Homo sapiens: one gene and its partner. The protein of the gene in region 2 interacts with the protein of the main gene of each other region in a biochemical or structural test. Each region holds a gene or a part of one and is shown on either strand. Other genes may lie near its edges. The genes, in order: PEX5 and DDO.

Region 1 (15,945 bases), on a different chromosome or scaffold from region 2:
GATTCCATCACCCCATATTCACCTCTCCATTCGCCCTTCCCCCTGGCTTCTCCCACTCACCATCTCGCTCTCAAGCCCCTATCCTAGGCCATCACCCAGGCCCTAACCCATCTGCACTACTCTCCTTGGGGCCTTTCTCAAGATGGAGGAAGCAGTCTCTAGCCAGAAATGAGACTATGGAGTCACTCACTTCCATGTGCTTAGGATCCTGCTGCACAGCTGCCTCAAAAAGCAGCACAGCATTTGGCAGGTCCCCCTCCTGAAGGCGCCGCAGCCCTTCTTCAAAAGGCTGAGGGTGATCACGCAAGGGGTTCTCCTCCTCAAACTGGTACCCCTACAAGAAAAGCACGTGAGAGATGGACTGAGAGGTGGCACCGTCAGAACAGCAGGGATGTGAGGATGACAACCAGCAGGCAGAGAAGCTGAGGGCCTCCAAACAGGTTCCGGAATTAATTGCTGGCAAATTCTCCATATTATAAAGATCATGTATGACACAAGTAAAATCATTTGGTATCAGGTTTGTGCTCCCATCTCCTGTTCATGATACCTGGGAAGCTAGGAAAGTCTACAAATTCATCTGCGCTGGAAATAAGCTTATTTTAGGAAGTCATCACAGGCTTGTATTCCCACACCTTGACTTCTCACCACGGGGCAGAATGTCTCAACAGGATCTGCTTATAGTAATGAGACAAAGTGTCCCTAGCTATGCAAAGTGCATTTCTTGTTATCCTTCAATAATGTGATGATGTATAAAGGAAATGTTGTTTGGAGTCCTGCTATTCAAATATAACTCTTACTTAGCTCAGAGTCATTCCACATGTCAACTAGATAAAACATTTTCAAGCATTTTGAAAATGTTAATTTATTCCCCGATTTCATTCTTAATAATCATGAATATTAATCTGTATCTGACAGTAAGCAAAAGCTGGATCCCAAAATCCAGATGGCAGAGAATACTTCAGAAAGACACCATTCTCTTCCAGCTGAGGATTTCTCACTTTAGAGAAGAGTTACGATACTATCTGCAAAGCTTTGTCAACTGGCATTTTACACTAGGCAGAGAAGAAATGAGGTAAAGGGGAAGTCACTAGTAAGCTGCAAAATCTGGGACATGCAAATAAAAAGTCCGTTTTTGGAGAGTAGTTACCATCATAAAATAATACACCAGAACGAAAACAAGATGCAAAACAACAGGTGGAGGTCTTTCTAAATGCAGTTAAGAATAAATTCAGATAAAACTGTACAAAATAAAGACATGAGGCCCTTTTTCATTATTATTGTGAAAATGATAAAGAATCAAAAACACTTAAATCTTACCAGCAAAATTCTAAGTCATGATCAGATGCAAATTATTTGTCACAAATGAAAATTAAATAATTACAATGGGGGGTTTAAGAAGAAAGACATATTATAGTAGATTTGAGATAAATGTATAGAAAGTATATTTATATTGAAAACAAGTGTGTTTTTGGACATCTCTGCATAATATAAAAACTAAGAAGGCAGAAAATGACGCTAGTCCAGTGATCAGCAAACTTTTTCTGCGAAGGGCCAGATAATAAATATTTCAGGCTTCGTGGATCTGCTGCAACTACTCACCTCTACTGTTGTAGTGCGAAAGCAGCCAGACATAAGTAAACAAATGAGCACGGCTGTCTTCCAATAACATTTTATTTATGGACACTAAAATTTGAATTTTATATAATTTTCACTTGTCACAAAGTATTACTCTTTTGATTTTCTCCAACCATTTAAAAATGTTAAAACCATCCTCAGCTAGTGGATCACTAAAAACATAAAGATTTATCCCACAAGCCAGTGTGCTGGCCCTTGCCCTAGACTATTACAGTTCAATAAAATAAATCCTTCTGCATTCAACCTCAACTATTGTTCATCATTAATACGTGTTTTAAGCCACTCTACAGAAAACAGAGATTACTGTCATCTATAATGCAGTTTCCTAATAAAAGTAATTCCTGCCTCTCAGAGCCATTGAGAACATCAAATGGGAATCTTCACCAACGCCTTACCAAAAAGCTTAAGATACTATCTGTAAATAGCTATTATCCTCACTGCTCTAGATACTTCCTTAAGATATGATGGCCTGTATATGACAGCCAGAAGTGATGCGAATGCTCTTCAGGTGTCTTCATTAGATAATACAACAACTCAATGCCACCATCTTGCAACCACAGGATTCTCTAAGTTTCCTCTCATCCATATTATCTACCCTCCTTGAAGTCTCATCAATTGCTGATCAAAGAGGAATTTTCCAAAATTAGAATATTTGCATAGATGATGGAAAAAGAGTACTCTGGGGGATCCCTCAACAACCCACAGAACACAGGATAAGCTTGGCTTCACTGTTACATCCTGAAAAGCCAAACCCAAGTCATTAATTTTATCTGATACACGGTCTGGTCTGCTCCAAAATCTCATAGGATCAAACTGCAGAAATGATCACTACAAAGAGTTTGTCCCATCACATACTTCTCTTTTATCATAATAGTATATTAATATCTGCCTGAGCTGCAATGTAAATTGTCTCTGAAAATATAAGGGCTATCAATAAACAAACAGTGCATTCAAAGAGATCCATGAATTTATGTAACAATCAAGAGTCAAGTCCTTTGTTTTTAAAAAGTTCTATTGACATGGAATTCAATATTAGCTTAAAGCCAGATACTGTCTAATTGCTTACTACATCACTTTTTGAGGAACATTAATGCAAGTATTTCTAGTCCTAATTTTGCAATATCCCAAAGTATCAATGATATCAAGTAGGGCTCAAGAATCTACAAACATACTTTTAAAGTTTTTAATTAAAAAATGTATTCTGGATATGACACCAAAAGCTCATATCCCAAAAATCATTGCAAAGACTAATGTCAAGAAACTTTCTCCCTATGTTTTCTTCTAGGCATTTTACGGTTTTGGGTACTGCATTTGGGTCTTTAAGCCATTTTGGATTAAGTTTTGTACATAGTGTGAGGTAACGGTTCAGTTTCACTCTTTTGCACATGGATATGCAGTTTCTCCAATACCATTTATCGAAAAGACTATCCTTTCCACATTTCTATTCTTGGAACCTGATCAAATGTGATTTTTTTTCTAAAAAAAAATTTGCTTTCTAATTTGTCACATTGTTCTATGTGTCTGAAAAAAAAAAATGTATTCTGGCCAGCATGTCATAAATACGAGAGTAATAAATGATAAAAGAAAATGCTGCTCATACAAAACTAGTATTATGTCTATATGTATGAAAAGCATGGACATTTTTACATAAATGTACAACTTTCCATTTATAAGTTGATGGGGCCTATGTGACTTATCAAATTGTTAATACAAAATAATAACAAAAGTGTTATCTATATTTCCTTCAGTTCTTCCTTATCAAAATTATATACAATGAACTCATAGTCTAGTGAAATACATGGCAAGGTCCCAGCTGTCTTTTCCCTTATATCACACAGGATAGTTAGAAAAATCCAGATCAGACTGGAATAATAAGCAAAATCATATTTTTCCTAATACTGTTCTTCACTGGCTCTCAAACTCTAGCCTTTTTCTGAACTGCATCTTCCCATCTTTGCATAGCTCCCTTATTACATCAAGATCCATCTCCAGCACCCTGGTTTGCATCTCAGGCCCTGGTTCCAGCCCCACAATACTTTCCCAACCAGATCTGAACTGAGAAAAAGACATCACTACTCACATCCCCAGTTCCTGTTTTGCCTTTTTTCAAAACCAAGTGATTCTTTCCCCTCTTCATGTTTCAACTCAGGAGCTCAGTTATTAAACACATCCCCAAATATCCTACAACCCACAGGTAGATTTGTTTTTCAGTAAGACCCCAGAAGTAACATATGCTTCTAAGTCAACAGCACATGCTATAGGCAAAATGCAATCATCTTTCATACTACTAAGAAATTTCCCTAATATTTAAGTTATCTAATATAAATTCTTTGAAAACCCTAAATTAGGGCAAGTGGCTACTACCTATAAAAGATAAGAACTTAAAATGAATATGTGAGTTTAAAAAGTAAACAGATATTAAGATGTGGAGGCAAAGGGATAGTCTGTCCACTAACACTCCCCACCAAAGGAGTCAGCAGTCTTCTCAAAAAGCTCCCAATCTGACCTCCAAGCAGAGCTACTTCCTCTGTGCTTTTAATGCAGCAAGCATGTGCAAACCTCCTTCACAGGTGTTATGTACTGGACTGTCGTTATTGACAAAGATAGTCTCATTAACATCTATATCCCAAGAATAAAGTTTATACTCAATCACTGAAGAGGAAGGGCAAGGGAATTATTCAGACTTCTTTTCGTGGAAAGGGACTCAAGAAAATACTTAAAAGCACCCTTCAAATTCAGGATTAAAGGAAAGACGTTAAAAAGAAGGAAGTTCTGGAACCTGAAAAACTAAGAGTTTTTACCTCACCTTATCATAGGTAGCTGACGTAAGGTCATCATAGTCAGAAAGCCAGGGGTGGGCCTCAGCATCCCGTTTTGCCATCTCCTCCAACTCTGCCTGCAACTTGTCCCAGAAATCGACATCAGACTGTAAGGAAGGGAAAGCAGATAGAAAAAGGAGATCCATCATGACCACCCCACCCCACACTCAGCTCTGCTGGGATTCTCTAAGGCAGCAGTTCTTGAATTTCAATATGTTTAAGAATCATCTGAATAAGTTTTTTAAAATGCAAATGGCCAGATGCTATCCCCAGATACTGATTTAGTAGTCTGGGGTGATGGCCAGAAATGTAATGTAGTGCAGTGCAGTGCAGTGCAGTGCAGTGCAGTGCAGTGCATAGTTTAGTTTAGTTTTTTGTTTGAGACAGAGTTTCACTCTCGTTGCCCAGGCTAGAGTGCAATGGCGTGATCTCATCTCGTTGCAACCTCCACCTCCCAGTTTCAAACATTTCTCCTGCCTCAGCCTCCCAAGTAGCTGGGATTACAGGCATGCGCCAACACACCACGCTAATTTTGTATTTTTAGTAGAGACATGGGGTTTCTCCATGTTGTTCAGACTGGTCTCGAACTCCTAACCTCAGGTGATCCACCCACCTCGGGCTCCCAAAGTGCTGAGATTACAGGCATGAGCCACCATGCCTGGCCCAGAAATCTGCATTTTTCAACAGCACCCACCCCATCCCCAAGCAACTCTGACACAGATGATCCAGGTCCACTATGAAATACAATTTGCATCATCTTTGATGTTCATACACCCACTCACTCCAAGGAGTGTTTTCTTTTGGGGTGTCTGCTCCTGCACTATCTGCTCTCACCTCTATAGCTGACTTGGCTCGTTCAAACTCCATATCAAGGGCAGATGTGTTTACTGGTCTTGTGAACTGGTCAACCCAGGCATCTGATGTACCCTGCGACAAAAAAGGATGGTCAGTACCACTACCACCAACTTTCTATCCATCAGACGCACACTAAATACCCACTAACCACCACCAACCTGGGTACTTCTGAGAAAATCATTCTCAGAATCTCTTTCCCACCCACTTGGGACCTGGATGCTATCAAGACAAGCTGGTCTTATCCTTCCCCATCTGGGACCACTGACCACTGAACCCATGGCCTGGGGCATCAGCTGGCTCTGAAGTGGGACTGGAAAGTGACAATGTCCTACCTGCTGCTGTATAAACTCTGCTGCCCACTGTTCTGCCTGAGCTCGGCCCGACCCTGCACCGGACTCCAGGGACACCTGCCCTTCGCCAATCTGCCGCACGAATTTCAGGAACTGGGGCACAGAGACACACACAGGCCACTTGGGAAAGGACTTCCAGGTGTGCACTCTCAACCATGCCCAAGAGGACCCTGTACTCACCCCTCCCCTGACCATCTCTAGCTGCAGACAAGATATGCTAAAGACCCTAAAAGAGGTAGAGAGCAAAAAGAAAGGGATTTCTGGCTCTAAAGACTTGCAAAGGCATCAGAAAAAAGAGTTAGTAGGCAAGGAGATGAGGGAATGAACACTAGAAGGAAGAGGCAGGATCTTAAGTCTCTGTTCTATAGACAGGAACGAAGAGACCTAAGATCTCTTCTCCTTCTCTTTAAACTAAACTGGGGTAAGAAAAGCAAGATTCTTGCCTTCCAAAACCAGCTCTGCTGGGCAAAGCAGCAGAGGGATGTGGCTCACCTCAGAATTAGCCAATTTGGGGTCATCCACTTTGGCCACAAAGTCACTGGCCGTGTGCTGCAGATCCTCCTCAGGATGATATTCATCATACCTGGAACGGGTAAGAACTAATTTTACACATTAGTCTGCCATCACCCTCCCCATGCTACTCCCCACTCCTAGCCCATGACAATGACAGTTCCTGTGAGGGAACTCCATTCTCCTGTTGAGAACCTACAAACTCCAATTTGCATTATAGAAGGACATTTGGGCAGGAGTGTGAAAGTACTAGCTACATCCTTCTAGCTCTCCCTTTCCCAAACATATCTTTGCATACAGATGGGATAGTAGCAGGCTCAAAATTAAGAAGGGAACAAGGTAAAATTATGAACTTTAAGATGAAGTTATGAACGTCATATAGGATAGTTAGGATTCTTGAAAAATATATATATATTTACCTATATACATATATTTTAAAAGTCTGAAAACTCCCTTCCTCCCAAATATAGCTGATATGTATATATACGTGTATGTGTGTATGTATATACATGTGTATGTGTATGTGTGTATACATGTATGTCTATGTGTGTGTATACATGTGTACGCATGTATCTACATGTTTACATATGTATACGTGTGTATATACATGTATGTGCACATGTATGTGTATGTATGCGTGTGTACATATGTGTATGTGTGTATATATGTGTGTGCGTGTGTGTGTGTGCACGCACACATGCATGCGCTTTTGGTTTTTTAAAGACAAGGTCTTACTGTGTTCCTCGGGCTAGACTTGACCTCCTGGGCCCAAGCAATCCTCCCACCTCAGCTTCCTGAGTACAGGCACACAACCACTGTGTCCTTGACTACATTTCAACCATAAATTCACAGGAGTAATAACCCAAGGGGAAATCTTAAAGAATAAAGTAAGCCCTCTCCCTCTCCCTCTCCCTCTCCCTACGGTCTCTCTCCCCCTCTCTTTCCACGGTCTCCCTCTGATGCCGAGCCGAAGCTGGACTGTACTGCTGCCATCTCGGCTCCCTGCAACCTCCCTGCCTGATTCTCCTGCTTCAGCCTGCCGAGTGCCTGCAATTGCAGGCACGCGCCGCCATGCCTGACTGGTTTTCGTATTTTTTTGGTGGAGACGGGGTTTCGCTGTGTTGGCCGGGCTGGTCTCCAGCTCCTAACCGCGAGTGATCCGCCAGCCTCGGCCTCCCGAGGTGCCGGGATTGCAGACGGAGTCTCGTTCACTCAGTGCTCAATGGTGCCCAGGCTGGAGTGCAGTGGCGTGATCTCGGCTCGCTACAACCTCCACCTCCCAGCCGCCTGCCTTGGCCTCCCAAAGTGCCGAGATTGCAGCCTCTGCCTGGCCGCCACCCCATCTGGGAAGTGAGGAGCGTCTCTGCCTGGCCGCCCATCGTCTGGGATGTGAGGAGCCCCTCTGCCTGGCTGCCCAGTCTGGAAAGTGAGGAGCGTCTCTGCCCGGCCGCCATCCCATCTAGGAAGTGAGGAGCGCCTCTTCCCAGCCGCCATCCCATCGAGGAAGTGAGGAGCGTCTCTGCCCGACCACCCATCGTCTGAGATGTGAGGAGCGCCTCTGCCCCGCCGCCCCGTCTGGGATGTGAGGAGCGCCTCTGCCTGGCCGCGACCCCGTCTGGGAGGTGAGGAGCGTCTCTGCCCGGCCGCCCCGTCTGAGAAGTGAGGAGACCCTCTGCCCGGCAGCCGCCCCGTCTGGGAAGTGAGGAGCGTCTCCGCCCGGCAGCCACCCCGTCCGGGAGGGAGGTGGGGGTCAGCCCCCCGCCCGGCCAGCCGCCCCGTCCGGGAGGGAGGTGCGGGTCAGCCCCCCGCCTGGCCAGCCGCCCCGTCCGGGAGGGAGGCGGGGGGTCAGCCCCCCGCCCGGCCAGCCGCCCCGTCCAGGAGGGAGGTGGGGGTCAGCCCCCCGCCCGGCCAGCCGCCCCGTCCGGGAGGGAGGTGGGGGTCAGCCCCCTGCCCGGCCAGCCGCCCCGTCCGGGAGGGAGGTGGGGGTCAGCCCCCCGCCCGGCCAGCCGCCCCGTCCAGAAGGTGAGGGGCGCCTCTGCCCGGCCGCCCCTACTGGGAAGTGAGGAGCCCCTCTGCCTGGCCACCACCCCGTCTGGGAGGTGTACCCAATAGCTCATTGAGAACGGGCCATGATGACAATGGCGGTTTTGTGGAATAGAAAAGGGGGAAAGGTGGGGAAAAGATTGAGAAATCCGATGGTTGCTGTGTCTGTGTAGAAAGAAGTAGACATGGGAGACTTTTCATTTTGTTCTGTACTAAGAAAAATTCTTCTGCCTTGGGATCCTGTTGATCTATGACCTTACCCCCAACCCTGTGCTCTCTGAAACATGTGCTGTGTTCACTCAGGGTTAAATGGATTAAGGGCGGTGCAAGATGTGCTTTGTTAAACAGATGCTTGAAGGCAGCATGCTCTTTAAGAGTCATCACCACTCCCTAATCTCAAGTACCCAGGGACACAAACACTGCGGAAGGCCGCAGGGTCCTCTGCCTAGGAAAACCAGAGACCTTTGTTCACTTGCTTATGTGCTGACCTTCCCTCCACTATTGTCCTATGACCCTGCCAAATCCCCCTCTGCAAGAAACACCCAAGAATGATAAAAAAAAAAAAAAAAAAGAATAAAGTAAGTTGGTTCGAGAACGTGGATGGAGGAGGCTGGGAAAACTGTCCATACTCCTTTCACGGGATTCGGAAAGAGGTATCTGAACTCACCAGCGATCGGTGGCTGTTCCCTCAGGTTCTCCCAGCCACAGCTTCTCCTCTGATTGCTCCAAATATTCCTCAGCCCAGCGGGCAGGGGACACAGACAAGGGGTCTGCAAGGAGCAGAGAAGTGGGGAAATCACACAGGTTCATTCAGTGTGGGATCAAGGAAAGGGAAAGAGATGCCCATATTCAACTGACCCTCTTAGCCACACCAAAGCAGACAAAACTCTGCTGACTCCCTCAGAAACCCCTGGTCAAAAGAATATAGTACTAAATTTTCAACATCCTCAATATCCAACCCATTCTCAAGGAGCCTGGGGCAGAAATTTACTGAGAGTTGGGAACGGGAGATCAAATAAGGAATCTCAGGAAAGGATTAAGAACCAAACTCTTTTTCTTGAAGTGCAAGATATTTCAATAAGAAATAGGAAGCGGAAGGGCTTTCACTTTCCTCAGAAGTACAGCAGGGAGCCAGTAAGGAGTGAAGGGAGCACAGAAGGGCTCCTGTTCCTTAACCAAGGCACTGGTCTGTTCTCCCTCTACCCAGAGTTCACACAATCCCGGCCAAAGGAGCCTTATTTCATTGTAATTTGCCTACCAAGAGAATCAGAGAAGTGGAATGCTAGGCTAGAATTAAAGACACATAGGTCTGCTCTTCCCTATGGATGTTTGGTGGGTTTTTTCATTTTTTAATTGAAATGTAATATACAAATATGAAACCATATAATGTCTACCAAACTTAAGTGTACAGCTAAATTAACTTCCACATTTGATACACTCACATAACCACCACCCGGATCAAGATACAGAACGTTTACAGTTCCCTCACAGGCTCCCTCAGTCTCCCAGCCCCCAGAAGTAAACACTATTCTGACTTTTCTCACTTTTGATTATCTTTGAGTAGCTATGTTTTTTCAGTCTAATTTTAGAAACTGTCTCAGAAGCTCTAGTGACAAAGGGGACTGCTGCAACATCAGAATTAACCTATCAAGGCAACAAACTCAATGAGGGTGCTGAACTGTTTTTCATCCTCCAGGACTTTGCCCTTTACTATCCTGTGGCCAGAAAAAAAAAACAAGGAGACTGACTGCGGGCACTAAAGAACACAAGGAAACAAAGAGAAGGCACAAGCCTACGGTGTTCTTTCCTTCTGCCCTGTGTCCAGAACTAATCTTACTAGTTAGTCTGCCACCACCTTCCCCTGCTATTCCCCACTCCTGGCCCATGACAAGGACAGTTCCCAAGGGGGAACTCCACTCTCTTGTTGAGAACCTACTAACTCCAATTTGCATTAAAGAGGGACATTTGGGCAGGGGTGTGAAAATATTAGCTGATACTAGCAGTCTTTGTCCCCAGTTTCAAGATCTGACCACCCTTGCTTTTACTACCCCTTCGGTATTAAAGTACAAAAACTTCTACTCCATTTTAACTGAAACTTTGCCTGAATAATGTCAACAAAGTAGTCTCAAAATCTGAGCATGAAATGTCAAAATGTGAAAAACAAAGATCAAGACTCTCAGAATACACCTAATTATAAATAATAAGTAATTACTACTTATTATATTATATATAACATATATAATTACATTATATATAACATATAATTATTACATTATATATAACATATATAATTATTATATTATATATAACATATATAATTATTACATTATATATAACATAATTACATTGTATATGACATATAATTACATTGTATATGACATATATATAATTATTACATTGTATATGACATATATAATTATTACATTGTATATGACATATATAATTATTACATTGTATATGACATATGATTACATTATATATGACATATATAATTATTACATTATATATGACATATATAATTATTACATATGACATATAATTATTACATATGACATATATAATTACATTATATATGACATATATAATTACATTATATATGACATATATAATTACATTATATATGACATATATAATTATTACATTATATATGACATATATTATTACATTATATGACATATATAATTACATTATATGTGACATATATAATTACATTATATGTGACATATATAATTACATTATATGTGACATATATAATTACATTATATGTGACATATATAATTATTACATTATATGTGACATATATAATTATTACATTATATGTGACATATAATTATTACATTATATGTGACATATAATTATTACATTATATGTGACATATATAATTATTACATTATATGTGACATATATAATTATTACATTATATGTGACATATATAATTATTACATTATATGTGACATATATAATTATTACATTATGTGACATATATAATTATTACATTATATGTGACATATATAATTATTACATTATATGTGACATATATAATTATTACATTATATGTGACATATATAATTATTACATTATATGTGACATATATAATTATTACATTATATGTGACATATATAATTATTACATTATATGTGACATATATAATTATTACATTATATGTGACATATATAATTATTACATTATGTGACATATATAATTATTACATTATATGTGACATATATAATTATTACATTATATGTGACATATATAATTATTACATTATATGTGACATATATAATTATTACATTATATATGATGTAATTATTACATTATATATGACACATAATTATTACATTATATATGGCACATATAATTATTACATTATATATGACACATATATGTATGACACATAATTATTACATTATATATGTCATATATAATTAAATTATATATGACATATATAAATTATGACATATATAATTAAATTATATATGACATATAATTAAATTATATATGACATATATAAATTATGACATATATAATTAAATATGACATATAATTAAATTATATATGACATATATAATTATTACATAACATATATTACATTATATATAATATATAATGTAATAAATACATTATATGTAACATATGTAATAAGAAATACATTATATATAACATAATGTAATAAGAAATACGTTATAACATAAGAAATACATTATATATACATTATATATAATGTAAAATGTATATATAATATATATAATATATAATGTATAATGTAATAAGAAATATGGTTGGCAATTTTTTTTGACCATAGATCCATCTGTTAATTTCAAGGACTCTCAAAAATTAAATACAGATTCTGCTCACTAGCTCTTACAGGAAGCATTTCTCTTCCATTTGCCCCAATTAGACTGTTGCCTCAAGTGTGGAGACGGAAAGGAGATGCTTAATACTCAAAGAGACTTTAAGATCTCCTAGTTCCTTAGTTCCATTCTTAGTTGAAATTCTTAGCTCCATTCTGTTGAAAAATAACTACTACCTCCTCAACTCTCCAAACACTTCTAACTCTCAACTAGAGTATTTTGCAAAAGCATATTCTGGCCATAAGTGCTCCTCAAATTCACAGAAAACATTTCAAATTCCTATGAAATGGTCCTCTCAAGGACAAAAAAAAAAAAACAGAAAAAACACAAAGCACCTTTGAATTTTTACAACAGACATGAGGACTTAACAATAGATATGAGGCAGTTTAAGAAAAAAAATCCCAGAGCTGAGAAAAACTATCCTCAAATACCTATAATTTGGTAGTTGGCCAGATTAAATCGCCACAAGACCCAGAATTTCTTGGCATTGGGAACCTACTCCAACAAGAGTCAAATAACCGAAAGAATCAAAAGAGTAACACACTGCCTTCACAATCTTTGAGAAATTCCTACAGAAAATCAGATCCATGTGGATACATCTGAGATCAAGGCAACTAAGGTCTACAGAGGGGATGCACTGCCTGAGGTCATACAGATTAGTAGAGTGAGAATAACCTAGACACCAAATACCCCACTCAAAATGTGCACCTCATATAATTTCTCGTTGTTTACTCATTCCTTCTAGGCACATCTTCCCCAAGCTCAAAAGTCAAAAACTCAGAACTTGCTACTCTTACTCATGAAAGTTTCTGTGTCTGCTAAATAGCAGCACTGTGGAGAAGAATACAAGTTGTAGGGTCAGTCTACCCACATTTAAATCCTAACTCCATCACTTATTCACTGTGCATCTTCAGACTAGTTACTCAACCTTCTTAAGTTTCCATGTCCTTATCTTTAAAGCAGAGATAACAGTAGGGGCTGCGGTGAAAACCAATGAATACAGTAACAAATGTTAGTTATTATCATTAGTCTGCTCATGGCAAACCTATAACAAAAGCAGAAAACATCACAATGAGACTGTTATTCCAAAGCCTCTCCTCCAACATCCAGAAAAGATCTGTTGCCAATTATCTTCTGCTACTGCTATCCATGGCTTTTCCCATGAAAGTGCAGGTTTATCTCTCACGATTATCATATGAACCTCACATACCATGTCAACCGAAGCTGTCTAAATTTAAGAACCCTGAAGATGTGTTTTATCTCTAGATCTGAGCAAACACAAGATGGAGAATTATTTGACCCAGAAGATTTAAGACGGGGGGATTCCATTACAAAATAAGGTAAGCTAAAAAAATGAACTTCATGTGGTGAGAGAATAGTTCTGTATCTTGATCATGATGGTGCTTACACAAATCTACACATTTAATAAAATTGCAAAAAACACACACACACAAATAAGGGCATGTAAAACTGGTGAAACCTAATAAACTCTGAGGATTGAAACAAGGGCAACTTCTTGATTTTTGATCTCTGCATAACTGCTATGTAAAATGTTACCACTGGAGGAGACTGGGTGAAGGGTATACAGAACCTTCCTATACATTTTTTTTTTCAACTTCCAGTGAAACTAAGTACTTCCAAATAAAAAATTTAAATTTAAATAATTGAGCTGCAACATTCTTTTTAAACTTGATTTTGACTCTTAACAGTGGAGATTTTAAAATAAGAACTTAAAAAGTATAACCTTCTTTCATCTCAAAATCTACTTATCTATAAAGCCATAGCTAACCCATACAATTGTATCAACCACAAATGCTGTAATTAAAAATGAAGGATAATAAAAAAAAGTCAGTTACGACAAAATGAACTCCTTTCCTTTAGCTTTTTCTCCCAGATCTCAATTCATTCATTCAATACCAGAGGCCTACTACATGCAAAGCAATATACTGCTGCAATAAGACATTTTTATGAAGGCAGACTTCAAACAGCTCAACTCCCATTCTAAGGTTTGCATGTCTCTGCCTCTGTGAAACAGGCACGATTCCAAAAGAATCTACAAAATACTAGAAGAGCTCTACTAAGAGCATTTAACTGGTGAGACAGATAAAACATGTTTTTCTAAAGTTCTTTTTCATTTCAAGTTAAGGAAGATTTCAATGGCTGCATGCAATTCAGGTAATTACAGCAAAAATTTCATCCATCTCAACGCTCATAGTAGCAATGATTTTTCTGAATTATCAAAAATGACTAATGCCCACATTACAACAGAAGCCTCTCTGTGATAAGAGATAGCACTTAAGTCTAAGGTTTATGTGAAAAACTGAGTTTCTGTCTTGGAGAGGGTCTTTGCTATGGTTCAGATTTTAACTTGCGGCAATTTCACAAAGAATCTCAACGTGAGGGCGCGTGCGGTGGCTCACGCTTGTAATCCCAGCACTTTGGGAGGCTGTGGTGGATTACTTAAGGTCAGGAGTTCAAGACCAGCCTGGCCAACATGGTGAAACCCTGTCTCTACTAAAAATACCAAAATTAGCCGGGCATGGTGGCACACGCCTGTAGTCCCAGCTACTCAGGAGGCTGAAACGGGAGAATCCCTTGAAGCCAGGAGGCAGAGGTTGCAGTGCGTACAGATTGCACCGCTGCACTCCACCCTGGGTGAGAGCAAGACCCTGTCTCAAAAAAAAAAAAAAAAAAAGAATCTCAAGAGCCACACAGACATGAGTTTGAATATCATCTCTATTATTCAATGATTTTGCACAAAGTATTTAACTTTTCCAAATCTCAGTCTCCTCATCTATAAAATGGGGGTGGGATATCCACCTTGTGTTACTGTTACTGTGAAGTTCTAATGAGCTTAAGAAGATAAAGTGATTAGCACTCTTAAAGCCAAGAGCACCTACTGTTCTACCTTAACTCCAACTTATGGGTGGGAAAGAGACACGTGATAAAAGAGACCCACAGATCTTATTAAAGGTGAGTTTTAGTTTTTAGATTTGGGATTTTTCTCTTGTGTGCGGAGAAGCCCATCCTAAACATGGGCCTCCTTCACACACATTTGTCCCTGATCAGATAGGCTTCGGGTAAGAAGAATCAATCCTAAAGGATGCGAGGAGCAATGGATGCTCTCAAGGAAAATTAGACTTGAGACCTTGAAATCTGTAGCAAACGAAGAAAGAACATAAATTAAAATGGTGGGGGTAGAAACCAATTCAGTCCCTTTAATCATCTCAGAAAAATTCAGGAACCATGATGATGTGACTCCCCGAGATCCTGGAACTTGGTAACTTTCTCTATGTGTATCTCTTGTTATTCTTGATATCTTAAACAGGAAAAAGGCTAACTTTTGAGAGCAATCAGGAAGAGGAAAGCTGAAGAGACTGCCCTTCCCACCATGTACCTGATTAGATAGGCTTAGGGCAAGAAGAATCAATCATAAAAGATGCAGGAGCAATGGATGCTTTCAAAGAGGAAAAATTAGGCTGAAACCTTTAAGTCTGTAGCAAAGCAAGAAAGAAGATAAATTGCAGGCCTGACAGTATAGCATCACAGTTAAGGCCACAGGGTCAGGAATCATTCAAATCCAGGATCAAATCCCAACTCTACCACTGACAAAGCTGTGTAACCTTGGGCACACTTCACCTCTAAGCCTCAATTTTCTTATCTTTAAACTAGGTCTAAAAACAGTAACTACCTCTAGGGTTCTCATGGAGAGTAAGTAGATAATGCATTCAAAGCATGTAACACAAGGCCTAGAACGTAACTATTGTTATTAATTTTTATTATCATCATCATGGTATGGTCTTTACCTTCTAAAGCCATACACTTCAGGCACTGGAACTTCACAATAACACTCTGAAGGCCCCAATTCTGTTCCAAATAACT
Region 2 (15,945 bases):
TTTATGAGAATCTAATGCCTGATGATCTGTCACTGCCTCCCATTACTTTCAGAGAAAACCATCTAATTGCAGGAAAACAAGCTCAGGGCTCCCACTAATTCTACATTATGTTGAGTTGTATAATTATTTCATTATATATTACAACGAATAATAATAAAAATAAAGTGCACAGTAAATGTAACACACTTGAATCATCCTGAAACCATCTCCCCATCCCCAGTCTGTGGAAAAATTGTCTTCCATGAAACCAGCCCCTGGTGCCTAAAAGGCTGGGGACTGCTGGGCTAAAGAATCATGTGGTTCTATCCTAGATTATCTCCTGAATAGTGTTTCCAGCTCCAATCAATCAACAACATTACTCAGCCCTCACCCCCTCCTTCCTGCTTCCCCCACCAGCTGACCCAGCAGAGCCAGGCACCCGGCTAACTGTGGGCAGCCAAACGAGGTTGGAAGTTGGACAGGCTCACCCATTATTCACCATACCTACAAATCAGCTGGAGAAAGCCCAGGCTGGCGGCCAGACAGAGGGCTCGTGGGCCAGAAAGGGAAGGGCTTGGCAGAGACAGCGCCATGGAGATGACAGGTTGAGGTCACTTGCTCCTTTCTCCGGGGCAATGGGTGACAGAGACAGCCATGCAGGCCAATGGAAAGGAAGACCAGGGGGAATGTCCTGAATCAAGTCACCAATGGGAATCAGTTTCGCTTTCTCTCTGTCTCTCAGGGCATGAGACCAGCCAGGCACTGGGAAACAAGGTTTGGTGCCAGAGATTTTGGTGGCTTCCAAGACTGCTTTTTCAGAGACAGGTACTTGAATTCTTGCTTTCAGCTGAGGGGTCGTTCCGTCCATGCTCTGGGAGTTTGGGAGTGTGTCTGAATAGGGTCAGGGGACAGTGATGGACAGGCCACTGTGCCAGGACACACCACATTGCTCGCTCACTCCTCCTCCCTGGCAGCTGGTTATTCTTAGCCACAGATTGCTTGCCCTTTCAACTTAGTTTATTAGAGCTGTTTTGAGAGAGTTGCTGGACATGGGAGGCTGATGTGAAACAGCGAAGTCAATAAGGTCACTGGTGGCTGCAGGACAGCTCTACTCAAGCTGGCCCCCACCAGACTGCTCTGGCCTGGGCCCGTTCCCTTCTCTTCCCTCAGCCCTGGCAGGCCCACTCTCTCTCAGCTGACCAGCCCACTGTACAGCAATCAAATTAACGTATCAAATTAGCACAGAAATGCATAGACTGCTCGAGGAATAGGAATATCACACTAAACTTCATTGGAGGGCTTTAAAGTCTCATAGTGCGAGAATCTTCAGAACTGGAAGAGAAAGCAGAGGCCACTAACAACCAAGCCCACGTTTTTCCTGCCAACAGCCCTTGCTGAGGAAGCTGCCCAGCCTTCCAGAGGAAAGGTGAACCTCTGTGTGTGGGTGGCCATGGTTTGTACCATGTGGCCCAGTACCCTGATTACTGTGCTTTGGACAGAGAAGGGCAACTATGCCAAGGGCACATTCAGAGGCTGGTTTAGCCCAGCAAGTTGGCCTGGTGCTAGAATTTTGTCCAACAGGGGATGCAATGACCAACTGGTACAACTGCATTTTCTCTCTCTGGAGTTTAAACCTGAGCCATACAGAAAGAGTCAGAGCAGGAACAGATGGGGAAAGCCAAAAACAGGGAAGCAAAGGCAGGCGGGGATGCTGACAGTGGAGCAAGGCTCCGTGGGTGAGGGGTGGGACAGAGGGTGCCAGCCTCAGGACACCTGGCCCGGGCTCCGGGATGTCTGTCCCCTGCATTTCCATTCAGACTCTCCCAAGGAGCCCCCTTTATGAGACCGCCTCACTGGGTCTCTCTTATTTACCACCCAAAGGAGCAAGTAATCCATCTGTTCTGTGTTACAGATGAGGGAGTGGAGGCTAGGAGACCACGGACTGCTCCTCAGGTTACAGAACCTGTCCAGGACAGACAGGGGGCCGGTGACAGTGGCAGATGGCAGAGGAGACTGAGTTCAGCTGCTGAAACTTTCTGTAATGTCCTTATTATTAGAAACAACTTTGTAGACAGAGTTGAGTTTTGAGTTGCTCATGGGTCATGCCCCTCACCACTGCTCCTCAGGTAGTTCTGGGAGCAAAGACTACAGCTCTGTGGTTTTCTGTCAACCTTCCCTAGGTTGTGCCCATAGGGAAAATGGTTTAGGAAAGGGGGATGAAGCCGGGCATGGTGGCTCACGCCTGTAATCCCAGCACTTTGGGAGGCTGGGGCCGGCGGATCACAAGGTCAGGAGTTCGAGACCAGCCTAGCCAACATGCTGAAACCCTATCTCTACTAAAAATACAAAAATTAACCTGGCGTGGTGGTGGGCACCTGTAATCCCAGTTACTCAGGAGGCTAAGGCAGGAGAATTGCTTGAACCTGGGAGGCGGAGGTTGCAGTGAGCCGAGATCTCGTCGCTGTACTCCAGGCTGGGCAACAGAGCAAGACCCCCTTTCAGGGGGAAAAAAAAGGGAAGGGTGAAGAATGAGTAGAAAACTCCTCCAAATGCAGACCTACTTACTGGCTAGGTGTTCTAAAGGCAAATCCAAGCCAGTTTTGTGTTACTCTCTAAAAGCCCATGGAGATCTTGTTGCTTATACACCAATATTTAATGGAAAGTGAGCTTATGGGGTTATCCTCTTTATCTCACAAGAAACACCAATAGGCTAAGTCTTATTCTGAGTGGCTGAAGACCTAAGGAAAAAACTGTCAAGACCAAACTTTGTCTGGATGGGAAAATCCTTAAAACAAGGGGTATAGCTCCCATTTCCCTCCTCACAGGCTCATGGACACAGCACGGATTGCAGTTGTCGGGGCAGGTGTGGTGGGGCTCTCCACGGCTGTGTGCATCTCCAAACTGGTGCCCCGATGCTCCGTTACCATCATTTCAGACAAGTTTACTCCAGATACCACCAGTGATGTGGCAGCCGGAATGCTTATTCCTCACACTTATCCAGGTGAGAGATTTCAGCTCCTCTATCAGATACAATAGATGTCAGATAGAATGATGTTAGTGGAATTCTATTGACAAAAGACAGCTGGCTATAGGTGTAAGTGTAATATGCAGGTTTTTTTCTTTTTCCTTTCCTCTTTTTCTCTTTTTTTGAGACAGGGTCTCACTCTGTCACCCAGGCTAAAGTGGAGTGGTGCAATCTTGGCTCACTGCAGCCTCAACCTCCCAGGCTCAAGTGATCCTCCCATCTCAGCCTTTCGTGTACCTGGGACTACAGGTGCACACCATCATGCCTGGCTAGTTTTTGTATTTTTGTAGAGACAAGGTCTTGTCTTGTTGCCCAGGCTGGTCTTCAACTCCTGACCTCAAGCGATTCATCCCCCTTGGCCTCCCAAAGTGCTAGGATTACAGCCGCCATGCTTGGCCATAATGTGCGGTTTTAACATCCTGTTGGTTCATCTCTTAGGACAGCCTCAGTTATGCTGCAGGACAGAAACAACATCCAAATCTTAGCAGCTTAAAAGGCAAAAGTTTGTTCTTGCTCACACTACATGTGGATTGAGCATCAGCAAGGGGCCAGCTTGTCATCAGGGACCTAAGCCGATGGAGCAGCTGTCATCCTGATTGTCATCAGCGCATGTGCCCAGGGGCGGAGGGGAGGGGACCTCTGAGGTTCTCGCCTCTGTGATTAAACACTCTGGACAGGAAGCGACTTTCAACGCTTCTGATGATGGCTCATTGGCAGAGCAGGCCACATGTCTCCACCCTCAGCAGGAGGCCAGAAAGTGTGATTCTATAGTTCCCGGAAGATGGATAGCAGAAGCATGGGATGAACAGTACTGACAACTACATGATTGGCGGCTCTGTCTTTCCACTGATAACAGTAATGACTATCAAGTCAGAAATTACTTGTAAGGGAACTAAAATTATCCTAACTTCTAAGCCTGTATAAGAACAATTATCAATATGTTTGTAATCAGTCAATCATAATTAGTTAATATGTATTAAGACCTGAAGATGCATGGATTTTTTTTTTTTTTTAAGACAGAGTCTTGCCCTGTCACCCAGGCTGGAGTGCAGTGGCACGATCCTGGCTCACTGACTCACTGTAACCTTCACCTCTGGGGTTCAAGAGATTCTCATGCCTCAGCCTCCTGAGTAGCTGGGACTACAGGCATGAGCCACCACGCCCGGCTAATTTTTGTATTTTTAGTAGAGACAAGGTTTTGCCATGTTGACCAGGCTGGTCTCAAACTCCTGGCCTCCCAATCCTCCCACTGGTGGGGCATGGTGGCTCACACCTGTAATCTGCTGGCATGCCCCACCAATGCATTGATTTTTGAACATGTCCATGCGTCCTTTCCTTTCTGTATTTTCCACTTGAAATGGGGGAGGAAGAAAATAGCATTAAATAGAAACCAAAATCACGCTGCAGTAATGAAGTTTATACTCACTGTCCCCATTTCCTCATTTCCACTCTATTTTTCCTCTTTAATTTTATTTTTTATTTTTTATCAAAGTTATATATGCCCATAGTTTAAACCGTCCTCCCTTCTGAAGTCCTTTTCCCTCTTTCTGGAAAAGTTAATATGCTGGACCTCCCAGACTGGTCCTCCAATTCTTTTAGCTTTGTCCCCCTCCTATTTATCTCTCTCTATTTTACTTTCTGGGAGACTTACTCAGTTTTATCTTTTACCTTGCTATTGAATTTTTTATTTCTACTATAACATTTCTAATATTCCAAAGCTCTTTTTTGTTCTCCGAATTTTCATTTGTTATAACATCTTATTTGTGTTAGAAGATTGCAATGTCCTCTCTTATCTTTATGAAGATACTAATAACAGTTTTTAAAAACTTTCTCCCTGAATAGTATCTGAGTATCTGTCATCTCCAAATTGTGGGAGGTTTTTGTTTTTGTTTTTTGATTTTCTCATTTTTCATGATAGAGGTTTTTCTTGGCCGTGTGGTATTCTTTACCTGTCTGCTGATGTTTATGAGTGGACCCTGAACAGCAGATGGGAATTTCTGAGTGTTTGCACAGGGCTTGTTGCCAGTGAGCTCACTGGAGTAAGAGGGCAGGGCCATTTATTTGGGGACATCTGTGATGTCATTCAGTTTAAGTTTTTCTTCTTGGGCGGGTCCTGTTTCCCAGGGAAGAGGGTTCCATGTCCTGCCTGGGGAAGATGAAGGCCCGGATGCCAGCTGGCATTTGAGAAGGTGACAGGGGAAGAGGCTGGGGTCCTAGCATCCAGTTTGCATGTGTTTCCTTAACACTCCTTTTTTCAGCACGGCATCCCTGCCTTTGCTGGTGCTTTGTGTTTTCCAGTCCAAAGACCCCTAAGAAAGAATAGACATATCTTTTATTAGGGTGGTAATAGCAGCGACCTTGGCATTGCAGGTCCAGGAGCTTGGCTGGTCAGCTCCTGGGAACTGCCTCCCAGGAAACAAACACAGGCACCTGGTGTATCCACCAGATGCCAGCTGATATAGTTTGGCTGTATCCCCACCCAAATCACATCTTGCATTGTAGTTCCCATAATCCCTACGTGTCGTGGGAGGAACCTGGTGGGAGGTAGTTGAATCATGGAGACAGTTACCCCATGCTGCTGTTCTCATGATAGTGAGTGATTTCTCAGGAGATCTGATGGTTTTATAAGGGGCTTTCCCCACTTTGCTGAGCTCAGCTCTCATTCTTCTCTTCCTGCCACCATGTGAAGAAGGACTTGTTTGCTTCCCTTTCCACCACGATCGTAAGTTTCCTGAGGTCTCCCAGTCATGCTGAACCGTGAGTCAATTAAACTTCTTTCCTTTATAAATTACCCTGTCTCGGGTATGTCTTTATTAGCAGTGTGAGAACAGACTAATACACCAGCTTACACTAAGTGCTTTTCTTGTGACGAGAGTTCTTGGGACCATTTTCCAGGCTCTCCCTTGCCTGTACCAGGCCTGAGTGAGTGTTCAGAAGGCTGCCAGCTAGTCATGGAATCATCCCTCAAAGACAGTCACTCATCTGAGGGCTCATAGGGCCATCGAGGCCAGAACTGTCTCTTTGGCCAGGTGGCTGGTTCTCCTGGACCAGGGTTTTTCTCTCTGTGATGCTGCTAGATAAAGACTTTGGTCTTCTCTTTGGGTTTCTTTCCTAGACACTATTCAGATGAGCCCCAGTCATAACTATCTCCTGTGCTCATAAATGTCAATACCATATGGAGACCATGCCTGTCCCATAGGGTTGTTGTGGGGATTAAATGAGTTGATACATGTAAAGCATTTAGAACAGTACCTGGCACATAGTAAGTGCTATATCAGCATTTGCTATTGTTCTCACCATTCCAGCTATAGTTCTGTTTTACCAGGACTTGAACATGAATTAGGTCATCAGGCTTCCTAGACCCACTGCTGGATGGGAATTGTCTGTTCTTTGGGATGACTTCTGCAGCATGTGAATCTCAGCCACTATTTTGTTTTTAAGGTTTGGGGTGAGAACAGGGAGTTGCATTTTAATACAACCTCACACAGTGGCATAGATTGTTGGGTAAAGTCTATTTGAGGCCAAATTTAGTTCTCTCTGCAGCTTATTATTTATTTATTCCTTATTTCTAAAGCAGCATCCCCACTGTGAAATTTTGGAATATAGTGTTAATTTCACATGGGCACATGTTTAAAGATGGCAGTACAGATTCGCTACTAAAGAAATATTTATTGGCTCTATAACAAGCGAATTGTCTGAAAATCCCGCTACTGACATGACTTCAGTGACCTGGGGGCTTCACCTGGGAAGCAGGATGTCTCCAAAGATCTTTCTATCTGTTCCTTGAATTTCAGGGACACCTCTCCAAGTGGAACCAACTTAGCATCCTCTCTGCCTCAGTTCCCTCATCTCCTCTGTGGCTTCCCTCATAGCAGCCCCTGAGGCTTATTGTTCCCTGGTCCCTGGCCTAACCCTAGCCAGTCTCTCATGATCCTTCTACAGGAATCAGACGGCCACATACTTCAACCACAGCTGGATTTGTCTGTGATTTTGGGTCATTCCTGCCGTCTCTGTGCCTACACTGGACACTTATTTTGAGGCTTAAACGCTGCCTCTTGTTTCCTCCCCAACAGGCCTGGCACTCTTCCAAAAGTTGTGTCTGGGTCCAACCCCATGTGCTCTGGCAGAGGTGCCTGGGGGATGGTATGGTCCCTGCACGCCCCTGCTGGCTTCAGGAGTGCTACTCTGGCTGGCACCTGATTCCATGGTGTGGAAGGTAATGGCAGCCCCTGCTGGGAAGTCTGGCCTGCAGGGGGCTCGCCTCCAGCATGCAAGCCTTGTTTCCTTGTACCAGGAGGCAAGCCCCTGGAACTCCCCATCGAGGTGCAGTCTGTTCTCTGTCCCGGTTGGCCTGGGCCCCACAGACCTGCCCATGTCATCCACTATGTTTTCAGCCCCCAAGAAAGAGGCCCTCTGTCCTTGGTCCTATTGTCTCAACTGTGTGGCCAGCTGGATCCCACAGCCATGAACTAAGCTCTGCTCAGGTTGGTTATAGACCTGCCAAGGACCTCTGGAATATACCTAGTACCAAAAACCACCTTCCAACTAGCTCGCATGCCGGGTTTTGCCCTTATTGGCCTGTTTTCCCTCCATTGATTAATCATATGAGCAGATTTGGACAGCATGTGTCAACATGCAAATCTCTTGTTGCTGACAGATCCTCTGCCACAATGTGGCACTTTATATTAATGTTCCTCCCTGCCTCCTTATTTTATTTTTGCCTCCTTATTTTTTTTCCAAGTTTCTAGGAAGGAGCTTATTTGAAGCACTGTCATTATCATCATTTTCCTTTCTGTTCCACTTTGCTTTTCTCCATGATTACAGATACACCCATTCACACGCAGAAGCAGTGGTTCAGAGAAACCTTTAATCACCTCTTTGCAATTGCCAATTCTGCAGAAGCTGGAGATGCTGGTGTTCATTTGGTATCAGGGTAAGTGAAGAAATTTGAAGTTATTTTAGAGTGTAGCATGATCTTAACAGGCATTAGAGTTCAACATAAAATATTTACTGAGTAGCTGTTGTGAGCAGAGTGCTGACTTAGATGCAGGAGGATTCGGAAAGAGCATTATAGGCTTTACCCCAAAGAACTGAAGAAAGACAAGTTATGGTATTAGACTTTTTAACAATAAACAACAATCAGAGTTTCTCATCACAAATACGATTGATTTTGGGTTTCCTCAGAGACCATGCAGTGATTTGCAAATTTGGTTAAAAAAACACGCAGGAGGTAAATGCTGGATTTGGGTGATGTGGGGATGGTACAGCCGATGGAAAGCAAACAGGTATGATGTTGGGATGGCTGCAGAGACCTAAGGGAGAGGGACTTCTTATTTATTCGGTGTCCTTGGAGAATGAGATATTCCAAAGAAGGAAATTTTGTAGGTCACTAAACTTGCCTTTTGAAGTGCCATGTGGAAAAAAATATTTCTGAAACTGTTAGCACACTTCTATTTCATTTTTAATGTATAATTTCAGTAGGCATGCATAATTAAATGAAAATTTGAGAATAAATGCTATTTGACATTTCTATTAGTAAGACGAGCACTTAAAACATGACATCTTTTAATATCTTCTTAAACTGAGATCACTTAATATTCTATCACTTTCAATTTACTTCTCAGTGTCATCATATGATGTAACATACATGTCATTGGTGCATGTTACACTTGTAACATACATGTGTTATCCTGTGTGATAACACAGTCTTTCTGCGGCCTTCTGAAAAAATGTGTCTTATCTCCTCTTTTGATGTCAGGCTGCCCACTGGGGTTTTTTGCTAGTCTAGTGTACACACTTGCATTGGGTGAATTTCTACCCTTTTTCTCTTCTTGTTTTTCCTCACCATCACAAACACCAAGATGATGCTGATGTCAGTAATTTCCCAAAGCCCCTCCCCAAAGTAGCAGTTTTGCTTTCCTATCAATCTATGGATTGATTCTTCTGTATAACTAAATCTGGAGCCAGTTGATGAGCCAAGTAGAAAAAACATTTTCTTTGATTTACGGTCACACTCTTTGTCCAAATCCAACATGAGTCCGTCTAATTCACAAATTTTGGCTCTAAGTAATTTTTGGAAACAGCCATGTCCAGAATTAAAATCCCCTGTGCATCTTTGGCGTAAGTATATAGCCTTACTCATCTATTTATTCCTTCAAAACAACATATTCAGCATTCTTCAGTATCAGGTTCTTTCTTAGGTATTAGGGATATAGCAGTGAGCAATTTAGTAATACCACTTGGCATATGCTTAACAAATATGTGTTGAGTTAATTTTTAAGGAAGACACAGTCCTGCCCTTATGTAGCTTATGGTCTCTAGGGAATGCAGTAAATCAAATGAGTTACCAAATTCACTGGGACATGAGTTACCAAAAGGAAGAGGCTAGGGTGCTATGGAAGCATATGTCTGGAGAAGAAACTTGCTCTGGGAAGTGATGAGAAGCCATCCAGATCAAGGTGTTTCATCCGAGACCATCAGGAAGAGTGTAAGTTAGTCTGGTGATGTTGTAGAGGTGAAGTGGGGGCGGGGCAGGGTGGGAGACGAAGGAGACAGCATTCCAGGTGGAGGAAACAGCATACACCTAGACCTGAGTCTAGGGCGACTGTGGTGTGTGGGAGGGACTGAAGGAAGTCCAGAGAAATGGGAAGCCATTGAGGGAGTTTACACAGTGAAGTGACTGGTCATAATTGCATTTCAAAAATATGTTTTCTATAGTGTGGAGAATAGATTTGTGGGAAGAGTTGATGATGAGATAGATTGGGTGTGGACTGTAGAAACAGAGAGTAGATGGACTTGAGAAATGCCTAAGGGGAGATTTGATAGGACTTGTCAGTTGATGGTGTATGAGAGGTGAGTAGGGAGAGAGAATCAAGGATGATTCTTGGGTTTCTGGCATTAGCACCTGCATGGATGGGTACCATTTTCTGAGTTAGGTAGGATTGGGAAAAGAGTGGATGTGTGTGTGTGCATGCATGCGTGCATGTGTGTGTAAATGCATGAGACTTCTAAGTGGACTTATCTAGTGGGGAGTAGGTAACATGGGTCCGGATCTGTTTTTGGAGCTCAAGAGAGAGAATGGACTGGAGATATAACCTTCTAAGTGCTCAGGACTGGAAATGTAGCCTTCTAAGTGTCTGGCCTGTAGGTCATGGTGAAGATATGGAAGAGGGCAAGCTAGCCCAGCGCAAGAGTGGGCCAGCACAGAACCCTGCAGTAAAGGACATTTGTGTCTTCATGGGGACTGCTCTGAATCAATTACCTAGAGATACATATTCCGATGGGGGAATTATTAGCAACTATGCTTAGCACTCAGATTATTTTCCTTGCTATTTTTGAGCAATGATGATTTATAACTTTTTTTTTTTTGAGGCAGGGTCTTACTCGTCTAGGCTGGAGCGCAATGGTCCAATTCAGTTCACTGCAGCCTCGACCTCCCTGGGCTCAGTTGATCCTCCCACTTCAGTCTCCCCAATAGCTGGGACTACAGGCTTGTGCCTCCACACCCAGCTAATATTTGTATTTTTTGTAGAGATAGGGTTTCACCTTGTTGCCCAGGCTGGTCTCGAACTTCCCCTCGGCCTCCTAAAGTGCTGGGATCATAGATAGGTGTGAGCCACCATGCCTGGCATTATAACATTTATTCATTTACTGATGAAAACAACCCAATATTTACAAATCTAAACATTTGCATAGCAGCTATTAGTAGTACTATTACAGCCTTCTTGTTAACAACCAAATCTAGGCAGGAGCTTTTTAGAAAAGGAGTATTAAATTCCATCTTTAAAAAGCATGTTACTTTTAAGATGTTTTATTTGCCCAGTCACCAACATCTGCTATTTAGCTACTGAGTTATCTGAACCTAAGAGAATAGTAAAATAGATCATTTTCTCTTTGTGTTTATAGAAACTAAATTTTTAAAATGTTCTAGGCCAGCTGTAGTGGCTCATGCCTGTAATCCCAGCACTTTGGGAGGCCAAGGTGGGTGGATCACTTGAGTCCAGGAGTTTGAGACCAGCCTGGGCAACATAGTAAGACGCTGGCTCTACAAATAATTTTAAAAATTAGTCAGGTGTGGTAGCAAGCGCCTGTGGTCCCAGCTACCCGGGAGGCTGAGGTGGGAGGATTGCCTGAGCCCCAGAAGTTGAGGCTGCAGTGGGCCATGATTGTGCCACTGCACTCCCACCTGGGTGATGGAGTGAGACTCTGTCTCAAAAATAAAATAAAATAAATGCTCTAGAGAATGTCATGTGAAGTTTACTAGAAATATGTTATTTCACAAATTTCAGGAAAAAATGTTCACTTAATACGTTTGAGTTGGCAGATATTTCAGAGCACTCCGACTGAAGAAGTGCCATTCTGGGCTGACGTGGTTCTGGGATTTCGAAAGATGACTGAGGCTGAGCTGAAGAAATTCCCCCAGTATGTGTTTGGTCAGGCTTTTACAACCCTGAAATGTGAATGCCCTGCCTACCTCCCGTGGTTGGAGAAAAGGTCAGTTGAAATGCTCCCTGATATTTCCTTATCTGTCATAGCCATAAATCACTTCGTAGCTATTCATAAAATACATACTGAAAAGTCTCTGGCATCCCTCAGAGCTCTTTCGCGTTGCCTTGCCACTCACAAATGGCTAGGGCTTTGTAAAACAATCTGAAGACAGTGTTTATGTCACAAGGACTAAGTCACACCATGCTTCTAGTAATTTGTCTTCTATTTTTGGTGTGCACTTCGATGCCTGACTTATTCCCTACCCTTCTTGCCCCAGGTAAAACCCTCTTATTGAAACAGTATCTTAGTTTTCCTCATCTGTAAAATGGAACAGTTTGGAGAATATATTTCCAGCTACAGAATGATATGATTTACTCTAATTCTTTGGACGAGAGAATCTTTGCTTATTATAAATTATTTTTGAATTTTTTCTCATTTTTGGTAAAGCAAAAAAATTTCATTATTTCCTTTTGTCTTAAATAAGAACTCTGAAACTAAGGACCTATCCAAATTATGTCACTCCTTCCTCATTAAGTTCAGCCCGTGATACCTTGAACTTGCATTTCGGCTTACTTTTCAGGACTTTCAGGAAACTAGTACTTAGCTTCCAGTTAGGAAACACATCAAGAGTATCTTCATTTGAGATACATCAGTAAATCTGTCTTTAGTTTAGTCTGGACTTGCAGGCATGTTGAGAGTTGTGAAATATTGATCCTTTCAATTCCCATATGTGTATATTTTGGTAAATAGGAACGATGTGAATTATTGTGTAAATGTTGGGAAAGTGACTTGAAGTAGGCCAGGGCAACAGTGATCTGGTACCAGATGTAGGTTATAGGATAATTGATTCATATAATTCATTAATTACACAACTTTTGTTGAACGCTTATATATATCTGGCATTATGCTAGAAGCTGGTAAAAAAGAAGGATAAAATATGATTTCTTTTTAAAATAATTTCATGGTCTATTGTGGATGACTGTGTGTGTATGTGTTTGCATATTAATTAACAATGATGGTAACACACATGGTAAAATAAAGTACAGACTTATGCAGGTTAGAATGGGAGCAGAAAGGAGGAAGCCTAGATCTGCTAGGCACATGTCAGTGGCATCGTAATCTAGTTTTGTAGCTTTTCAAGTGCTCTTCTCACTTTTACCTCTTAGCAATTTATATGGGACATTTTGCTTCTGTAAGTTCTAGTTTCATAAAACCCATGCCTTTTCTGGCCTTGTTCACCAGCCCATAAACCACTGTTCATATGCCAAGTTTGGACTTGTCTACATCAGCTGATAAACGTATATTTTGAGCTATCACATGATGGAGTTGCCCACCAGCCAACAAGCAAATTTTAGCAGCATCACCATCTTTCCTGAGTGGCAATAGTGTGTAGTGTTGAATTTTCCCCCTTCTAAAAATGACTAGAAATACAAAATTAGAAGCATTGATGCTAGTGATAAGGAATTGAGGCATCATATAACTTATCTTAATAAAATCCAGAATAAAATAAAATAAAATAAACAAAAAAAGTTAAAACATGTGGAAAAAGGCAATAAAATAAAATAAAATTTAGGTAAGTGGAAATTATTAGGCATGGCAAAAAATGGCAGAGTTTCCTTTCAATACAATGCATAACATTTTTAGATTATGACTCAAAAAGAGCTCAAAATGGAAGAACATGTACAAAATATTGTGATAAAAGGTGAGGTGTCATTAAGGAGTTTAACTTTTTTTGGTATTATTAGTGGTTTGGGCTGAAGTTTCATTATTGCCACCAAGTCCATTGTGTGGCTTTCTCATCTTGGATTTTTGTCTTAATGATCAGTAAGCTTTCTAGAAAACCTGGCTGGAGCCCTGTGGTCTCCAGCAGATCACGGAGAGGCAGATGAGTGAGAACCTAAGAGTGTTGTTCTCCCTCAGAGACATGGTCAAGGGCTGATTAAGGGCTTTCCTGCGTGGGGATGGCCAGGGGTATGTGTTAGGGATGGTAATGGACACAGAGCTAAGGGAGGTAGAGAAACTCTAACAAACTCTTCATACAGATTCCTAACATTTTGCTTCATTATTTTCGCTTTCTTTTTACTCCTTATACATATTTTCTTTCAGAACCATTTGAAAGTAAGTTGCAGTTTTCCTCTTGTGGCTCAGGCTGAAGTGCAGTGGCGTGATCTCAGCTCACTGCAACCTCCCGGGTTCAAGTGATTCTTCTGTTTCAGCCTCTCAAGTAGCTGGGATTACAGGTGCCTGCCACCACGCCCAGCTAATTTTTGTATTTTTAGTAGAGACAGGGTTTCACCATGATGGCCAGGCTGGTCTCGAACTCCTGACCTCAGGTGATCCACCCGTCTCGGCCTCCCAAAGTGCTGGGATTACAGACATGAGCCACCGTGCCTGGCCCCATGTTTAAATATTTAAATACTTGCTCTCAGAACAAGGGTATCCTCTTACATAAACACAGTAGTATAATAAAATCAATATCATTATATTGATACAACACTATAATCTATGGACCTTATTCATATTCTGCCAATTGTCCATATAATGTCCACATGTAAATATAAATACACACAACACATAATTTTTTCCAGTCCGTGATCCAATTACAGTCACACATTGTCTTCAGTTGTCATGTCTCTTTAGTCTCCAGTCTGTCTTTGTCTTTTATTACATTTACAAGCTTGAATAGTACAGACCAGTTGTTTCATATAATAGAATGTCCCTCAGTTGGGGTTTGTGTGATGTTTCCTCGGGATCGGATTGAGGTCCTGCATGTTGGGGTGAGAATGCATAGAAGTAATGTTGAATCCTTATTGCATCATAGCAGGAGGAAGATGATATCAGTTTATCCCCTTATTGGGGCTGTTAACTTTCATCACCTAGAATGCCAGTTATCTCTACTGTGAGGTTACTACTTTTTCTCTTTGTAATTACTAAATATTTTGTTGTGATATACCTGAAACTATGTAAATATCCTATTCCCATGAAACGAGTTCCTATGAAAGTAGTACTTTCACCTACGAGTTTTAGCATCCATTGATGATTTTTGCCTGAACTATTTATTACTGTGATATTTTCCAAGTGATCATTTTATAACTCCATCTATATAGTTTGCTTTCTACTGTAAAGAAGTTTTCCTTTTCCTATATGTATTTATATCAGGATGAACTCATTGGTACCTATTTTATTCAATGGATTATAATTTATCCCCCCCATCATTTTGATGTTCAAATTGTCCAAGATTAGCTGAGTAGGAGCCCCTTCAAACTGCTCTTGTGTCTTTTTGATATGTTCACTTGATTTGCTTTTTTTTTTTTTAAAGCACTTTTTTACTTTGGGGCACAACAAAATTCCACACACCCCAAATTTGGAGAAGAAAAACATTTTCTTTTCATGAATATTTTCCACCACCTTTCCCTTAACACAAACCTGCTGCAATGCCACAATTTAAATTTATGAATTTAGTGCAGAAAGAAATTGTCTTTTCTCTTTTCCTCTGTCCCCTGAAATTTTCACTCTGTTGCAATGTAAATCCTGATTTGAGGTGTAGCTAAAGAACACACCTCTACCACAACCACCTGGAAGTCCAAGTTGACATTTAGAATTTCTAGATTCCTAAGAGTCCTGCATCTTCACATGGCAGCAAAGGGGCCCAGGAGCATGCCGGGAAGCACCCTCGCTCTATCCATATCTTCCCTGAAGACAGTTGTCCTTGGCCACTCCTTGGGCTCCGGGGTGCACACAGTGGCACAGTCTGCCCCCGGGAGGAAGACAGTGCAGGTCCTGGAAGAGGACAGGGAATATGGGGATCCTGGGTCCCCAGAAGACGGGCTGGAAGTGAAGGGAGAGGGCTCTGGCTGGGCACATGCCCGAGCCCCACACACTCACTGCCTCAAGAAGAAAGCATGGCTGGAGAAGGGCCAGACAGGGGTCCTCTGGGTGCCCAGCTGAAAGAAGGTGCGGCTCAGATGAGCCAGAGTAAGTTTTGAGTCCTAGTGATAGCCTTGAGCTTATGGGTAATCAGGGAAGGCGGTGTGAAGCGTTTCTTCACAAACTTTCTCGGGCCCAAGCTTTCATTGAAGCATTGGCTCTAAAGTCTAGAAGTGAAATGCAAATGCTTAACTCCTCCTGGGAGAGAGGGCTCATTGCTTTCATTTTGCTTTAAGGGCCAAATTGTTGATAAGGCCCTGGGGAGATGAGGAGAGTTCTGATGGGGCAGGGAGGGGGCATGAAGGCCCAGGGCACCTGAAGAGGTGTCACTGTAGAAGGGGGCAGAGGCAGGGACGCCAGCCTCCCCCCAGCACACAGTCACCTCCTCTGAGGAGTCCTCATAAGTCTCCCAGTTGGCCTGGTGCCGCCCTGCCTCGTGGGCAGCGTCCTCCTCTGCGGGGGCTGGAGGTCCCCACGCGGGCCCGTGATGAGGCGCCAGTCCCCGCCCCGGCCCGCTCCTGCGCACC

Evidence for each region.
Region 1: the proteins of DDO (region 2) and PEX5 form a complex in vitro, tested with the Homo sapiens proteins (2 studies listed by BioGRID, with this or other methods).

What each region holds. Positions count from the first base shown.
Region 1 is NC_000012.12:7,192,048-7,207,992, reverse strand, and holds part of PEX5 (peroxisomal biogenesis factor 5), read right to left. Parts: intron 8,983-15,945; coding exon 8,880-8,982; intron 6,243-8,879; coding exon 6,152-6,242; intron 5,753-6,151; coding exon 5,642-5,752; intron 5,382-5,641; coding exon 5,289-5,381; intron 4,562-5,288; coding exon 4,442-4,561; intron 335-4,441; coding exon 191-334; intron 1-190.
Region 2 is NC_000006.12:110,400,326-110,416,270, reverse strand, and holds the start of DDO (D-aspartate oxidase), read left to right. Parts: upstream 1-695; 5' UTR 696-804; intron 805-2,804; 5' UTR 2,805-2,808; coding exon 2,809-2,980; intron 2,981-3,442; exon of another isoform or gene 3,443-3,887; intron 3,888-5,693; exon of another isoform or gene 5,694-5,751; coding exon of another isoform or gene 5,752-5,761; intron 5,762-7,828; coding exon 7,829-7,937; intron 7,938-11,320; coding exon 11,321-11,497; intron 11,498-15,945. UniProt on the Homo sapiens protein: Selectively catalyzes the oxidative deamination of acidic amino acids. Suppresses the level of D-aspartate in the brain, an amino acid that can act as an agonist for glutamate receptors. Protects the organism from the toxicity of D-amino acids.